Regions from separate parts of the Homo sapiens genome. Here region 2 is linked to region 1. The links come from fine-mapping of genetic effects on gene expression. Tissue or cell type: subcutaneous fat. Region 1 holds a variant in brackets; the other region holds the start of a gene. All regions are shown on one strand. Distances are between the middles of the regions.

Evidence for each region. PIP is the estimated chance that this variant, and not a neighbour inherited with it, causes the effect. A credible set is the group of variants that fine-mapping cannot tell apart.
Region 2: SULT1C4 starts here. The variant in region 1 is the best candidate, but not a certain one, in a credible set for the expression of SULT1C4 in subcutaneous fat (GTEx, PIP 0.51).

What each region holds. Positions count from the first base shown.
Region 1 is chr2:108,308,737-108,312,982 of GRCh38, reverse strand. It overlaps SULT1C2 (sulfotransferase family 1C member 2), which reads right to left. Exons shown (of 8, transcript NM_001056.4): 8 at 3,068-4,246. Among named protein-coding and RNA genes, the nearest start is that of SULT1C2, 22 kb to the right of the region's middle. The variant T/A (reference allele first, on the strand shown) is at 2,472.
Region 2 is chr2:108,376,057-108,380,302 of GRCh38, reverse strand. SULT1C4 (sulfotransferase family 1C member 4) reads right to left here and starts at 2,349. Exons shown (of 7, transcript NM_006588.4): 1 at 1,797-2,349. The coding sequence starts at 1,965.

The sequences.
Region 1 (4,246 bases):
ATGGACTTACATTTCCACATGGCTTTGGAGGCCTCACAAGCATGCAAGTACTAAAGAACTGTGTCTGCAATTAAAATGAAAAAGACCAGGCACAGTGGCTCATGCCTGTAATCCCAGTGCTTTGGGAAACTGAGGCGGGAGGATTCACAAGCATGGTGGAAGGTGAAAGGCATGTCTTACGTGGCAGCAGACAAGAGAAAATGAGAGCCAATTGAAAGGGGAAACCCCTAATAAAATCATCAGATCTCATGAGGCATATTCACTACCAAGAGAATGGTATGGGGGAACTGCACCATGATTCAATTATCTCCCACCAGTCCCCTCCCCCCAACACGTGGGAATTATGGGAGCTACAATTCAAGGTGAGATTTATGTGAGGACACAGCCAAACCATATCATTCCTCCCCTGCCCCCTCCCATATCTCATGTCCTCACATTTCAAAACCAATCATGCCTTCCCAACAGTTCCCCAAAGTCTTAACTCATTTCAGCATTAACTCAAAAGTCCATAGTCCAAAGCCTCATCTGAGACAAGGCAAGTACCTTTCACCCATGAGCCTTAAAATCAAAAGCAAGTTAGTTACTTCCTAGCTACAGTAGGGGTACAGGCATTGGGTAAATATAGCCATTCCAAATTGGAGAAATTGGCTAAAACAAAGGGGCTATAGGCTGCATGCAAGTCTGAAATCCAGTGGGGCAGTCAAATCTTAAAGCTCCAAAATGGTCTCCTTTGACTACATGTTCACATCCAGGTCACTCTGATGCAAGAGGTGGGTTCCCGTGGTCTTGGGCAGCTCTGCCCCTTTGGCTTTGCAGGGTACAGCCTCCCTCCAGGCTGCTTTCACAGGCTGACATTGAGTTCCTGTGGTTTTTCCAGGTGCACTGTGCAAGCTGTCGGTGGACCTACCATTCTAGGGTCTGGAGGATGGTGGCCCTCTTCTCATGGTTCCACTAGGCAGTGTCCCAGTGGGGACTCTTTGTGGGGGCTTCAACCCCACATTTCTCTTCTGCACTGGCCTAGAGGTGGTTCTCCATGAGGAGCCCTCCCCTGCAGCAAACTTCTGCCTGGACATCCAGGCATTTCCATACATCCTCTGAAATCTAGGTGGAGGTTCCCAAACCTCAGTTATTGACTTCCATGCACCTGCAGGCTCAATGCCACATGGAAGCTGCCAAGGCTTGGGGCTTGCACCCTCTGAAGCCATGGCCTGAGCTCTACGTTGGCCTCTTTCAGCCATGGCCGGAGTGGCTGAGATACAGGACACCAAGTCCCTAGGGTGCACACAGCAGGGAAGGCCCTGGGCCCAGCCCATGGAACCATCTTTTCCTCCTAGGCCTCTGGGCCTATGATGGGAGGGGCTGCCATGAAGGTCTCTGACATGGCCTGGAGATATTTTCCCCATTGTCTTGGTGATTAAGATTTGGCTCCTTGTTATTTACGCAAATTTCTGTAGCTGGTTTGAAATTCTCCCTAGAAAATGGGTTTTTCTTTTCTAGTGAATTGTCAGGCTGCAAATTTTCTGAACTTTTATGCTGTGTTTTCCTTTTAAAATGGAATGCTCTTAACAGCACCCAAGTCACCTCTTGAATGCTTTCCTGCTTAGAAATTTATTTCACTAGATACCCTAAATCATCTCCCTCAAGTTCAAAGTTCCACAAATCTCTAGGGCGTGGAAAAAATGACACCATTCTCTTTCCTAAAACATAGCAAGGGTCACCTTTACTCCAGTTCCCAACAAGTTCCTCATCTCCATCTGAGACCACCTCAGCATGGATTTCATTGTCCATATTATTATAAGCACTTTGGTCAAAGCCATTCAACAAGTCTCTGGGAAGTCCCAAACTTTCCCACATTTTCCTGTCTTCTTCTGAGCCCTCCAAACTGTTCCAACCTCTGCCTGTTACCAGGTTCCAAAGCAACTTCCACATTTTTGGGTATCTTTATGGCAGCACCCCACTCTACCAGTATCAGTTTACTTTATTAGTCTATTTTCACACTGCTGATAAAGACATACCCAAGACTGGGTAAATTATAAAGAAAAAGAGGTTTAATGGACTTACAGTTCCATGTGGCTGAGGAGGCCTCATATTCATGGCAGAAGGTGAAAAGGCATGTCTTACCTGGTGACAGACAAGAGATAATGAGAGCCAAGTGAAAGAGGAAACCCCTTATAAAATCATCACATCTTATTCACTACCATGAGAACAGTATGGGGAAAACCACCTCAATGATTCAATGATCTCCCACGGGGTCCCTCCCACAACATGAGGGAATTATAGGAGCTACAATTCAAGATGAAATTTGGGTGGGGACACAGCCTAACCATATCAACATTACTTCCGTATACAACAAAATTATTTTCAGTGTTGATCATGAATAGAGACAAGTAATAATAATAGTAAAGAAATGTAGTCAGTGAAACTTTTCTTTTATTCAACTTTTGTGTATAGACTCAAGACCAGTAAAAAAA[T/A]CAGAATGCCAATTTAAATAAAACTAAAATGTCTACAAAAAGTATAAGTCAGACAATTACTAAATCATACCACTGGTGTAATGTTTTATTTCTTGATTCATTCTTAAATTTTAAAACAAATAATTAACACTTAGAAAAGAGTAAATTTTGTTTTTAAAGTTATTATTCAAAGTCAGTAAACTTCCTGTATGAGCACAACTTTGTACTTACTAAACAAAGTGTGAATGTTGCTGTTCACACTCTTAAATTTTACTGTTTTAAATTCTGGATACAACTGAAAACCCCAATGAGAGAATTGAACAAACTGAGGTGTTCTGCTTCTTTTCCTTTACAACCATTGTGCCACCATCATCTATGCCAAATCTACTGTTTAAACAGCAATATCCAAATACTGCAGGGTTGGAGACACAGGTTATACCTGAAGTGAGCTTGCAAGATTCTGAACTGTTATGAACTTAACCTTGGAAGGAAGCAGGCAGAACTACATCTGCCTGCTGGAATTAAAGAGGTAGACTCTATGCTTGGGGTTTCTGAATTAATTTCCATACAAAGGTGAATAAGACATGAAACAAAACAACAAAAATTTTACAATGCAGTGGGGATACAGATAACTTTTATTTATTTACATAATAAAAAGGTGCTTATTTGAAGCTCATATACATATAGTTAAAACTCAGTGGTAACCTAGCTATTATTTAGAACTTAGGCCAATAAGAGTTTTTCTTTTCACTTTTCTTTTCTTTTTTTCCTTTTTTTTTTCTCTTTTTCAGGGAGAAGCATTTTAACACTGACATTGTTTGGAATTGCCAGTGCATGGTAATAATAAAAAGCAGTCAGTTAAGACCAGCCTGGGCAACATAGCAAGACCCTATTTTAAAAAAAATACCCTACGAAATCCAACAAAAAGCATTCAGAATTTTAGTTGGCTTCATTCTTCCTCTTATTGTCTGCTCCCAGGGTGAACTGCTCCTACTACCCTCAGCTATGGAATGCCACTATTTGGGACTAAAAGAAAAGGGTCAAAGTTCAAAATTTGTGATTTGCTGCAGTCATTTATCCATGCACTTTTTTACTCCCTCTACAAGTTCTCAAGGGCACTTGCTGTGTGCCAGGCACTGCATTAGGTACTAGGAGTAAATATGGCATGAGACTGAACCCAAAGAATTAACAATTGAGTGAGAGGTATAAATAAGAAATTGAAGAGTAAATACATAACAACAGGGCTGCAACTGGGACAAATATGGGAAGCAAGGGAAAAGAACACCTCACTTGGTTTAGGGCTTCCCAAAAGGGTGGCATTGAAGCCAAGACCCAATTACCTCCATGCCTGGGAGCCATGCCCATGCTGACGTTGTTGACAGCCATCCTGTCTCCTCCTTTCTGCTTTCACCAGGACGTAACTTGGGTTCCCAAAAGGCCACTGTCATGCTTTCTGTTTCCTATATGACCTAGCACTGGGACTATTCACCAAGTTTTGGTCTTCTGACATCTCCTCTGTGCACTTCCATTTTATTCCCACCCACCAGTGAGGGCACTCAGGCCATGTTTCCTCAGGGCTGGCTGCACCAGGGTTTCCCTCAAAGTGTTCCTTCTGATAGTGACCAGACAGAACTCCAGGATTGAGCCCAGGCTGGAGTTGCCTGAATGGCCAGGACAGATGACAGAAATTTTGTTTTTAATATAGATATAACCTAATATTTGGACTTATACTCAAGGTATTATGATGTTATAGACTGGGAGACTAGGATGCACTTTCCAGAATAATGGGGATTAAA
Region 2 (4,246 bases), 67 kb before region 1:
GCCTCAAAAGATCCCCCTGTCTTGGCCTCCCAAAGTGATGGGATTACAGGTGTGAGCCACCATGCCTAGCCAGGATGGCTTTCTGAATCCTGATCTAGGTTGATCTTTCCTGTATTATCTGGCCGAAACTCTATAGATTCCTTTTCCCATATTCTCAATTTAGTGCTTTTAAAGGCCTAGAATAAGGGCATAGGTTAGAAAAAAATTAAATTACATTTTATATTTTATAGTAGTTGGTCTCCTGTATTTTCTGGCAGCAACTTTTATTACAGGACAAAGGGCCAAGATATCTTTAGCTATCCATGCAAAGAATAGTCCAGCCATTTGTACTAGTTTTATGGGAATTTATAGCCATAACACTGAATGTCTATAATGAATGAATTGAATGAATTTATAGACATGAGCCAACATGAGGGCAGATTCAAATGTTGCTAGAGGCTCCGGGGTGAGTGGAATGACTTCTCAATTTATTCTCTAGAGGCCAGTGATTCTATGATGTATTTTTTTCTTGTGTCATTCAGAGTATTATTCTTTTAAAAATTTAGGGTGAACTATTTTTGCCATCTATGCTTGTTTCTTCTTCCTTCTAATAAAATAGCCTTCATTAATGTATATGGTTTTAGTTATGATTAAATATTACTTTAGATGGCAAGTATTTAATTTTCTTAGTGTGCTTTTTGAATTGCTTAAACCTCATTAATGCCATGAAAAACCTAAATGAACCATATCTTTGTACTTGCGTTTGGCAGATAGAGAAAAGATTATTTATGTATTGAATTGATAATCAAGTGGAATTGTCAATGAAATTAAGATGATGAGATGTGATCCTCACCAGTGGCTACTTTTAGAAATTTACATTCAGAAAAATTTGATCCTGAATGGGCTCCTGATGAGTAAGATTGGGAAATCAGGACCAAAATGAAACAGATGGACAAAGAAGAGACCAAGGCCTCCATGTGCCTGCAGAATCTTCTGTCAGGATCTTGAGAGATAAGAACAAAAGAGGATTTTGAACAGTCTCAGAAAATACTGAGGTTTAGATTTTTTGATGTGTGTGTGTTTGTGTGTGTATAACAAGAGTTTTTGACAGCTTGATTTTGCAAAGAGCAAATGTATATACAATTTGTGTGTGGACCCAGTAATGTATTTCTAGTAGATATGTAGATATGCAAAAATATTTATAGAGAACTATTTCCACCTCATCATCACCCAATTTTTATGACGTGGTGGCTCGGCTTAAGCTAGTCCTACTTTTACAGACAACTTTGTTAAACTGATTGTTGAGATAAGGCAGTTGGTTCAAAACTTACCACAAAGGAAGGTGGAAATCAGAAGGATGGTTCTCAGACCCTGAGATGGGAGGGCTGCTGAGGTGATATCAGCATTGCAGAACCAAAGCTCCCCTATTTCTTTCCCAAATCAGACTCAGGATCACCTTTCTAGCTCACACACTCAAAGCAGCTTTTTACAAGATCTACAATAAGGGCCTAGATTGGGAATGAATAAATAAACAAGTCTACCCTTTTGCTCTTAACTGTTTTCACTCTCTCCTGGGAAAGTGAAAAAAAAAAAAAAAGGAAGTACATCATAGTATCATAGGAAGATTGAATTCTAAAAATTTGTATGTCATTTTAGTATGTTTCGGTATAGCTTCAGTTTCCACTAGTAACTTTCCTTAGCCATATCACTCTGTCCAGAGTTTTCCAGATCAACTTCTTTATTTCATGACTAATGCATACTTCCACTTACCTTCCTAACTCTCCTCTTCCCCTTCCCCTGCAAGCCCTTCCACCTACCTGCTTTAGGATAGGTAGAAATAAGCAGGTCATCAGGCTTGGCTTGGAAGTTCCAGATCTTATCCCAGATGTCACAGGTGTCTGTCGGTTGAAGAATTCCCTTCACGTAGTTGACACTTAAGCGCTTTGTTCCATCAAATGTAAAATCCTCCATGTCGTGTAAGGCCATTAGTGTAAGAAATCAGAGGGCTCTTCCAGACACAAAGTTATCTTCAGTCAGCATATGGCTGCGTTGTGGATAGAGGCAGCACTCTATCCACCACACTACCACACTATCCAGCCCTCTAGCACAGGCCTGTCTGGGCCAGCAAACAGGGAGAAAGTGAGTTGCAGGCCTCCCGACTCAGGTTCCAGGGAACTGGAACTCTTGTTTATGACTTTGTCCACTGGCAGTTTCCTGAGGAACTGCAGCCCCCTCCTCACCAGGCTGTGGCGTCACAGCAGAGGCGGCCACAAACCCTGCTGGCCAGCAAACAGGGAGAAAGTGAGCTGCAGGTCTCCCGACTCAGGTTCCAGGGAACTGGAGCTCTTGTTTATGAATTTGTCCACTGGCAGTTTCCTGAGGAACTGCAGCCCCCTCCTCACCAGGCTGTGACGTCACAGCAGAGGCGGTCACAAACCCTGCTGGCTGGGTCCCGTTCCAGCCCTTCCGTTCTCTGTGAGTTAACAGGACATAGTATCACATTGTTTATAGCTCTCATGTCTGTGTCCATTAAACCCTTCATAGATAATTTCAGTAATTATTCCTTCTGGGAATTTTAAACAATTAAAAAGTTGCAGGACTTGCCTGTGAAATTACAGATTCTACACAGAATGACTTCCCTGAGAGACTGCAGGGACTTTCCCGTGGGCTATTAACAGTGGGGGCCTGGATGGATCTGAATCTCCCAGTACAAACATCTGCCAGGGTCAGCTTTGTTATTTTTTAAGAGTAAAATAAATAATGCTAAACTGGAGAATTGTAGGGGTTTCATCACAGCTATGAAAACATGTATGCCTCATTTAAAGCAAAAGGGATGCAGAAAACTCCAGAGTTAACAGAAGACAGTGGCTGCCTTAGGAATCCATTCTGCCCCTGATAATCAGAAATTTCACAACTTGCTTCAGTCCCTGCCCCCGGCCTGGCCTGCACCCCAGGGCCATGCCACACTTGCTCCCCATGGCAGCACTCCTTCTGGAGATCTTGTCGGCTCTTGTGTGTCTGGCTGTCTGATTCTCTTTCTTCGTGTCCCAGCTTTGATGCCCCCTTTCTGGAGAAGCCTTCTTTGACTTTCTATGTCATCTCAAGTAGGTCCCTCCTATTTCCTTGCTCATGGCACTTTGTGTTCCTTTAGAGCAACCATTGACAGTTAGTTTTTGCGTGTTTACTTGTTGGCATTTTCTGTCTCCTTCACTACACTCTAAGGCACATGAAATGGGGCCTGTTGTTTTCTCACTGTTTGATAGCTGTATGCCTAGTGTCTGGCATTCTTCTATTTCTCGAAAGAATGAATGAGTAAAACTAAGCAAAAATTGAGGAAGCGAGTTCCTTGGGCCATCATTATGTGGGGACTAGGTGAGTATGGTGGCTGTGGCTTGACATCCTTCAGAGAGAAGTCAGGCTGCCTGTATTTGAACCCTGTGCCAAGTCCCAGTAGCTGTGGGCAATGGCAGGTTACAGAATCTTTCTCTGTTTCATATCACGCTTTTCCTCAGGTCTGAATTGGGGATCTTAACATTATCTACCTCATGGTTGTGGGGAGATAAAACAGCTTATTTAATGCTTGGCAACAGGGAAATGTTGAATAAATCATAGCTGTTAATAATAATGGGTGACTTTGTTCACCATTTCTCTGTGGCCCATGTTCTGGATGCAAACTCAGAAAAGATCAATTCTTTGGCTTTCCCTATTCCTCATCCCCTCCCTCCAGACCATGGTGAGGTGGATGGGCCCTTGAGACAGAGACTGCCAGGTGGAATGCCTGGGATGCATATGCATTTAAACAGACTTATAAAAATCACCTATAATTTTTCAGTTAGATTTTATTCTATAATCTTTTTGGCCCTGTGTGCCATCAGAGTAGAGTGGTAGATATTCAGCAATGCCTTAGCAGTTTTCTCCAGTGCGTTGTGTGCTAGAGGGGGAGGGCTGGGAGATGGGGGAGGATATGCTTCTGGACCCAAAGATGACTGACTGGGATTGAAAATAGATCCAGGGAAGATGGGAAGTTCCAAATAATTTGAAAAGTGATCTTGACTACAAACACTGCTCTTATTCTCACTTAATGTTTTTACTCAATAGTACTTTCTCATGAGGTTAGGAGAATTAAATAAATATATTTAGTGATTATAAGAATAAAGTTGGTGCTAAGTCTATATTTGACAAGCATTGCTTTGGAATTCTAAATATATGGGTTTGAATTTAAACTGCCCCCTAATAGCTGTGTAACTTTTCTAATACTTATCTCTTC